Linked DNA regions of Homo sapiens. The protein of the gene in region 1 purifies or fractionates together with the protein of each later gene. This does not show direct contact. Each region holds a gene or a part of one and is shown in the gene's direction. Other genes may lie near its edges.

Region 1 (3,815 bases):
GATTGAGACCAGCCTGGCCAACATGGTGAAACCCCGTCTCTACTAAAAATACAAAAATTAGCTGGGCGTGGTGGCGCACGCCTGTAGTCCCAGCTACTTGGGAAGCTGAGGCAGGAGAATCGCTTGAACCCGGGAGGTGGAGGTTGCAGTGAGCCGAGATCAAGCCACTGCACTCCACCCTGGCAACAGAGCGAGACTCTGTCTCAAAAAAAAAAAAATAATAATAATAATAATAATAATAATAATCATTCAGCCTCTATTTCTAATGGAGCCTTAAGGCTACTTTGGGTAAGTTTATTTTTTTGAGTTATAGAATTCTTGACCTACTGGCCTACTTATTTTAAAAAATGCTTAGTTTATTGTGCCATGAAAAACAGGTTTTATTTTCATAAGCCTTCTGTACTGTCAGCTATGGCAAATGCATACAGTCAACTCAGTAACAGGTGCTGAGTCCCCTTTGTGTCCTGGAGCACTAAGCTGACCCCAGAGGACATCTGAGGAAAGAGGTCAGTGATGCCTCCCAGGGTCTGAGGTCTGTGTGAGGGCAGGAGTGACGAATGTCCAACTCTAGGTGTCTGGGAAGGAGGCCCAGGTGGGCAAAGGCTGGCAAAGGAGAGGGTGGCTTTTGAGCTGGGCAGAGTAGAAAACGTTTCCAGGAGGAGGAGGAAACTGAAAAATATAAGAAAAGAATTCGTTGAAGGTATTGCCATACTTCATACAAATTAGCATTTGCTTAATTGGGAGTAGAAAACCATGAATTATTTTAACATTAAGTCTCATTGAAACTAAGCTTTTTTTAACCCCTTAAAAGTTATTTTGCTGTAATCCCAGCACTTTGGGAGGCCAAGATGGGCACATCACCTGAGATTAGGAGTTCGAAACCAGGCTGGCCAACATGGCGAAACCCCGTCTCTACTAAAAATACAAAAATTAGCTGGGTGTGGTGGCAGGTGCCTGTAATCCCAGCTACTCAGGAGGCTGAGGCAGGAGAATCACTTGAACCCAGAAGGCAGAGGTTGCAGTGAGCCAAGATCGTACCGACTGCACTCCAGCCTGAGTAATAGAGTGAGACTCTGCCTCAAAAAAAAAAAAAAAAAAGTTATTTTGTACTTTCGTGTATGTGTAAGTGTCCATAGTTGACCAAATCCTAGAGTTGGAAAAGGTTCTAAAAAGAACTTAATTTTTCATTGTCTCTCTAGGTTATGTGACTTTCCTGTCCAAATACAGCTGAGGTGGGAAATAGACACAGTTGTAACCTTGACAATTTTATTTTATTTATTTATTTTTTGAGACAGAGTCTTGCTTGCTCCGTGGCCCAGGCTGGAGTGTAGTGGCACGATCCCGACTCATTGCGACCTTCACCTCCCAGGTTCAAGCGATCCTCATTCCTCAGCCACTCTAGTAGTAGGCGTGCACCACCTTGCCTGGCTAATTTTTGTTTTTCAGTAGAGACGGGGTTTCACCATGTTGGCCAGGCTGGTCTCCAACTCCTGGCCTCAAGTGATCCACCCGCCTCGGCCTCCCAAAGTTCTGGGATTACAGGTGTGAGCCACCGCACCCGGCCTAACCTTGACAGTTTTAAAGTTGTGTGCTGTGGATTCGTTCCCCATTTAATATGTGGCGTAAAGTAGGTCTTTCTCTCTCTGCAGAAGTCATAAGGACGAGGCTCCGGGAAGAGGGCACCAAGTACAAGTCTTTTGTCCAGACGGCGCGCCTGGTGTTCCGGGAAGAAGGCTACCTTGCCTTTTATAGAGGACTGTTTGCCCAGCTTATCCGGCAGATCCCAAATACTGCCATTGTGTTGTCTACTTATGAGTTAATTGTGTACCTGTTAGAAGACCGTACTCAGTAACAGGCCGGAAAATTGTGCTCTAGAAGAATAAAACTGAAAAACTCTAGAGAATTTTTTTTCCCCATTGATGTTTAGAAAGTTTGAGACTGAAACAGGAAAGGCCATAAAATATCTGGTTCATATCACCTGTTGGACATTTCCTTTTGGATTCATGCTTTCTGGAAGGTTTAAATTCATTAACGTTAATAGTTAATTATAACTTTTTTTTTAACTTAAGAGGATTCAGGGTTAAGCACCAACTAAATTAAATCATGCTATTTAATTTAAGTATACATTTGGCTTGTGTCCTCTTTTATGCTCACTATACTATGAAGGACTTAAGTAATTCAGATAAACCTGCCCTAGAACTGCAGAGAAAAATGATAAAGTGAGAATACAACTTGTTTTATAATCTGACTTTAAGATCTTGCACTGCTAGACAGGGAAGAAGTGTCGCATTTTGGCTGGGCACTGTGGCTCACGCCCGTAATCCCAGCACTTTGGGAGGCCGAGGCAGATGGATCACGTGAAGTCAGGAGTTCCAGACCAGCCTGGCCAACATGGCGAAACCCTGTCTCTACTAAAAATACAAAAATTAGCCGGACGTGTGCCTGTAATCCCAGCTACTTGGGAGGCTGAGGCAGGAGAATCACTTGAAACCCAGGGGGCAGAGGTTGCAGCGAGCTGAGATCACGTCACTTCACTCCAGCCTGGTCGACAGAGTGAGACTCCATCTCAAAAAAAAAAAAATTGTGTCACATTTTGGTGGTGGTGTGTGGACCAGGACAAACTTCCCAGCAATTTTTCTTCTTTGTACATTTCCAATTACTTGCAGATTGATCATCTAAGCGTTCAGACTGCTGAGATGAATATATATAACTTTCTGAGACTCAATATTTTAAGCTATAAAAAACTTCCTGAAGTTATCCTTTTCTCCCTACTTTGAACCAAAGGCAAGAATTTTTAAAGAACTGTTTTATCAATGGCCTGGCTCCTGGATATAGTTCCGGAAGTTAAGACCAGTTGCCTTGTTAAGTGTGTTGACAGCACAGCTACCCTGTTTGGCTGTGAATCCAGAATGTGATGAAGAACAGTCATTCCCACTGAGGTCTTTAGCCCTGTTCTTGGACCTCTGCTCTTGCAGAAAAGGAGCACAACGTAGGACTATGGCTCACCCGTCAGAGAGCTCACATTCTGATAGAAAGCACTGGGATTGTTTAAATATCCTAGTTCAACATTAAAAAAAAAAAAAATTTAATCCCAGCACTTTGGGAGGCCAAGGCGGGCAGATCACGAGGTCAGGAGATCGAGACCATCCTGGCTAACACGGTGAAACCCCGTCTCTACTAAAAAAATACAAAAAAATTGGCCATGCGTGGTGGCGGGCACCCATAGTCCCAGCTACTCGGGAGGCTGAGGCAGGAGAATGGCGTGAACCTGGGAGGCGGAGCTTGCAGTGAGCTGAGATGGCGCCACTGCACTCCAGCCTGGGCCACAGAGTGCGACTCCATCTCAAAAAAAAAAAAAAAACCAGGATGTTACCCCCTTGGTTTTAAAGCAAATTTAATAAGGGAACAAAAAGATGATACTAAGAAGAAGGCAAGTAAAACCCCTAGTCTTCCATTAGCTCTTTCACTGGAATTTGAGTATATTGTACATGAAGGTTGGTTTTCAATTTGAACGTCTAGAAAGATACTCATTTCTAATACCTATGCACTGTAGTTTCAGGTTTACTTGCAGACACCCTGGTAGGGTTAAGAGGAGGATATTTCCAAGTTATTTTAAATTGAGTTTACTTTTAACTGGGGTTCTTGACTCTAGTGTAATTGCTCCAACAACTACGTAGAAGTCAAAATGAGTGACTTTAGTGAAGCTTCTGTACTTTACAATACATGACAGTAATGCTATTCCAGAAGTTTTGTTTTGTTTTGTTTTGAGATGGAGTCTCGCTCTGTCTCTCCCAGGCTGGAGTGCAGTGGCACAA
Region 2 (4,080 bases), on another chromosome or scaffold:
TACAATATACCCACACAAATCTACACATATCAAAGGCTATCTGGTATGTATCACTCTTACGCTTCAGACGTACTCATAGTCACCACACAGGCCTATGTTCCTATTGATACACTATCAAAATACCTGTTGACTGTAATTAAATACTGGAGTATCCACCAGAAGCCTGTCTCACAAACCATGTGTGTTCACTACACCTGACATAGGTCAGCCACTCAGTAAATATTTGTTGGATGGTAAATGATGCACAAACATTACCCATCCATCATATCTCTGTTCCCTTCATACCTTTCTCAGGAATGTCAAAGTCCCAAGAGGATGCCCTGCAGCCTGGATCCACTAGAGTGGCCAAAGGCTGGAGCCAAGGGGTGGGAGAAGTTACTTCTACCTCCGAATACTGCTCCTGCGTTTCTTCTTCACGCAAGCTCATCCACAGTGGTAAGGGTGCAGGGTTCCTTCGGCACGTGGCTCCTTGGCTGTGGGGTTCATTGGGCATGAAAATATTTGAGTGTGGGGCTCTGTGGGCATGAGACTCTTTGGTTGCAGTGCTGCTTGGGTGTAAGACTCTTTGGGAGTGGGGCTTTTTGGGTTTGGGGCTCCTTCGGTGTGACAGTCTTTGGGTGTGGGGCTCCTTGGATGTGACATTCTCTGGGTGTGAGGTTCCTTGAGCATGAGACTCTGGATGCAGGGCGCTATGGGTATGTGACTCTTTGGGTGCTGGACTCCTTAGGCATGGGATTGGGTGCAGGGCTCCTTGGGTAGGGGGCAGGAGGCCCATAGATCCAAGGATGAGGCTAAGAAGAAACCCAGGGCAGTTGGATATGATCAGAGCTCTGCAGAGGTGTCTGGGCAAGATGACAGAGCTGTTAGAAGAGCATGGATATAAGCTCAGTGTAGGAGAGCATGAGCCCTGGTGTGCAGTCAGGCAGTCAGGGAGCAGAGGCCAGAAAAGTCTGCTGTTGGGGTGTAGGGCCACAGGACCAGATTAAGCACTTTCATCGGAACTATTTGGGCTCTGCCTTTGCCTTCCAGAGAAAGACAGATTTCCTCAGCCCAGGCCTCCAGCACTGCAGCGGGACTCTAGCTCAGGCCCACACACCTCACACATACAGCCACACGCTCCACAGGTACACTTTCTGCACACACACCACCCAAATGCATGACCTGCAGTGCCATTCTCCCACACTACCTCCCACATTCCACAAATAACACATCAATGATGGCACCAACTCACATCCTCATAGCACACACATGCTGCCGACATTCCACATATGCTGCAGTCCTCACCACCATACTCCACACCCCTGTATATGGACACCCCACCAACATCCCTACACGCAAATGACACTAGAATCACTACCCCACAATATGAACAACAAATACCAAGCTCACTACACAGCTGCATCTCACCACAGTCCCTGTCTCCTGCACCACACATATTTAACTTACGTTCCCTCAGCTCCTAGCATGGCCCATGCATCTGCTCATGTTTCTAATTTCCTTTCCCAGGAATCCAGAGAATACATCGAGACAGCCCCCAGCCTCAATCACCCCTGGCCCAGGTTCAGGAACGAGGAGAGACTCCTCCCCGCTCACAACATGTCTCCTTGTCGTCCTATTCATCCTATAAGACTTGTGTGTCCTCTCTGTGTGTAAACAAAGAGGAAAGGGGCATGAAAATATACTACATGCAGGTACAAATGAACAAAGGTGTGGCTGTCTCCTGGGAGACAGAGGAAACTTTGGAGTCCTTAGAAAAGCAGCCAAGGATGGAAGAAGTGACCCTTTCTGAGGTTGTGAGGGTAGGTACTCCCCCCTCTGATGTGTCCACCAGAAACCTCCTGTCTGACAGTGAGCCCAGTGGGGAGGAGAAAGAGCATGAGGAAAGGACAGAATCAGACAGCCTGCCAGGCTCACCCACCGTTGAGGACACACCCAGAGCCAAGACTCCTGACTGGCTGGTGACCATGGAGAACGGCTTCAGGTGCATGGCCTGCTGCCGGGTGTTCACCACCATGGAAGCCCTCCAGGAGCATGTGCAGTTTGGGATCAGAGAGGGCTTCAGCTGCCACGTCTTTCATCTCACCATGGCTCAGCTGACAGGCAACATGGAATCAGAGAGCACCCAAGATGAGCAGGAGGAGGAAAATGGAAATGAGAAGGAGGAGGAAGAGAAACCAGAAGCAAAGGAGGAGGAGGGGCAGCCCACAGAAGAAGACCTTGGCCTGAGGAGATCCTGGAGCCAATGTCCAGGCTGTGTGTTTCATTCTCCAAAGGACAGGAAGTGAGCAAAGCCTGGGTTGTGGGTCTGCTGAGGGAGCAATGGCTTCCCCGAGCCAGTACTGTCTCCCCAGTTCAGGCTTAGGTCTCTGTAAGGAAGATTTGGGGGCTTTATTGGCTCAGGGAACAATGGAGGGGGACATAACTGGGATCCCTGCTTCTTGCCTAGGCATCTAATAAAGTCTCGATTGTAAGTCAGGATTTGTCTTGACCTTTCCAGCTCCTGCAGGAAATTCTGAGAATTTCAAAAGTCGCATTAACTAAGAAGTGTCTTTCTTTGGTTTGATTTTCACACAGCAGCTGAGACTTATGGGCCAGAAGATACTGGAAGATGGTGTGGCCTTCTCTTGCAAGAGGTAAGGAGTGAGACTTGCAGTTTTCTGAGGCTGTGTTGTGAGGGCCCAGAGGAATCCAAGGGAAGGAGCTGCAGGGATGCACTGGGTCACCTGGTGGCTCTGCAGCCACATCAACTTATCGTGCACCTGGTGCTTCTGGGGGAATTGTCCTCCATTTGCTTAGATGACAAGGTGAAGAGCATTGACTGGGAACTTTCTCAATGTCTGCATGATTGTCCTCAATTCTAAGAGGAGGTGCTGCAGCTCTTCTAGGCAGCGGAAGCTCAGTGTAACCTCAAGGGCCAGGATTGGCCTGAAAGGACAGGATGCCAGCAAGATCAGAGGTGTGGAGTCTGAGAGCCTTTGGCCTGAGCTGGGATCCCACCTGAGCCCATAGATATAGCCCTTGGGGAAAAGGGGAATTTGGAGAGGTAACAACATCATCCTGATGAGACACCAAGAGAACTGGAAATGTTTCAGAACCTTCATTTTGCTGCATTTGATCTGGAAATGAACTCACTGTGGGTTGCATGACTCTGAGCTTCAAAACAAAGGTGAAGGGTAACTGACTAGCAATGCTTGTATTGTTTCTTGCCTCTTCCTCTTCTGCCTCAATTGTTTTCTTCACTTCCAGGGAGAAGAAAGAGCCATGGAGATAGTAGCAGACAGGCTGCCCAAGGTATGAAGCAGATGAGGGACCAGCACTCAGTCTAACATGTAAACATCATACGTAATAAAGGTTGTGTTTCAAACCTTACCTGGATATATTATTTAATTAACAAATTAATCTACCTATCTATTCATCATTTTCTTTTTTTTTCCTTTTTCTTTTTCTTCTTCTTCTTCTTTTTTTTTTTTTGAGATGGAGTTTCATTTTTGTTGCCCAGGCTGGAGTGCGATGGCATGATCTCGGCTCACTGCAACCTCTGCCTCCTGAATTAAAGTGATTCTCCTGCCTCAGCCTCCCAAGTAGCTGGGATTACAGGCATGTGCCAGCACACACAGCTAATTTTGTATTTTTTTAGTAGAGATGAGGTTTCACCATGTTGGTCAGGCTGGTCTCGAACTCCTGGGCTCAAGTGTTCTACCCGCCTGGGCCTCCCAAAGTGCTGGGTTTGCAGGCGTGAGCCACGGCGCCCAGCCCTATTCATTATTTTCATCTATCTCTCCAGTGGTTTGTGAACGAAGTTTTACATCAGCACTAAAGATATCTACCAGCCTTTTCCAGAGGCAGCAATAGCCAAGCTCCTGGGTTTGATTAGACTTCTGTGTGACAATTTTTTCAAGGCTGGATATCACATTTCATATGAGACCATGACAAACTCCACTACATACCTATGTTTCCATCATCCCGCTTTATTAAGCTTAGCATTTTTCTACGTTTGCTTCAGATGGCTTTGAAGTAAAAATGATTACAAATACAGCCATAGTCCCCTGTTCCATTGCCTTACATATGGATTTTGAGTAT

Evidence for each region.
Region 2: the proteins of SLC25A33 (region 1) and FAM170A purify together in Homo sapiens (co-immunoprecipitation; one large-scale study listed by IntAct). This does not show direct contact.

What each region holds. Positions count from the first base shown.
Region 1 is NC_000001.11:9,580,650-9,584,464, forward strand, and holds part of SLC25A33 (solute carrier family 25 member 33), read left to right. Parts: intron 1-1,649; coding exon 1,650-1,852; 3' UTR 1,853-3,815. UniProt on the Homo sapiens protein: Mitochondrial transporter that imports/exports pyrimidine nucleotides into and from mitochondria. Selectively transports uridine, thymidine, guanosine, cytosine and inosine (deoxy)nucleoside di- and triphosphates by an antiport mechanism.
Region 2 is NC_000005.10:119,632,454-119,636,533, forward strand, and holds the end of FAM170A (protein FAM170A), read left to right. Parts: intron 1-294; coding exon 295-435; intron 436-1,506; coding exon 1,507-2,281; intron 2,282-2,574; coding exon 2,575-2,581; 3' UTR 2,582-2,633; intron 2,634-3,246; 3' UTR 3,247-3,369; downstream 3,370-4,080. UniProt on the Homo sapiens protein: Acts as a nuclear transcription factor that positively regulates the expression of heat shock genes. Binds to heat shock promoter elements (HSE).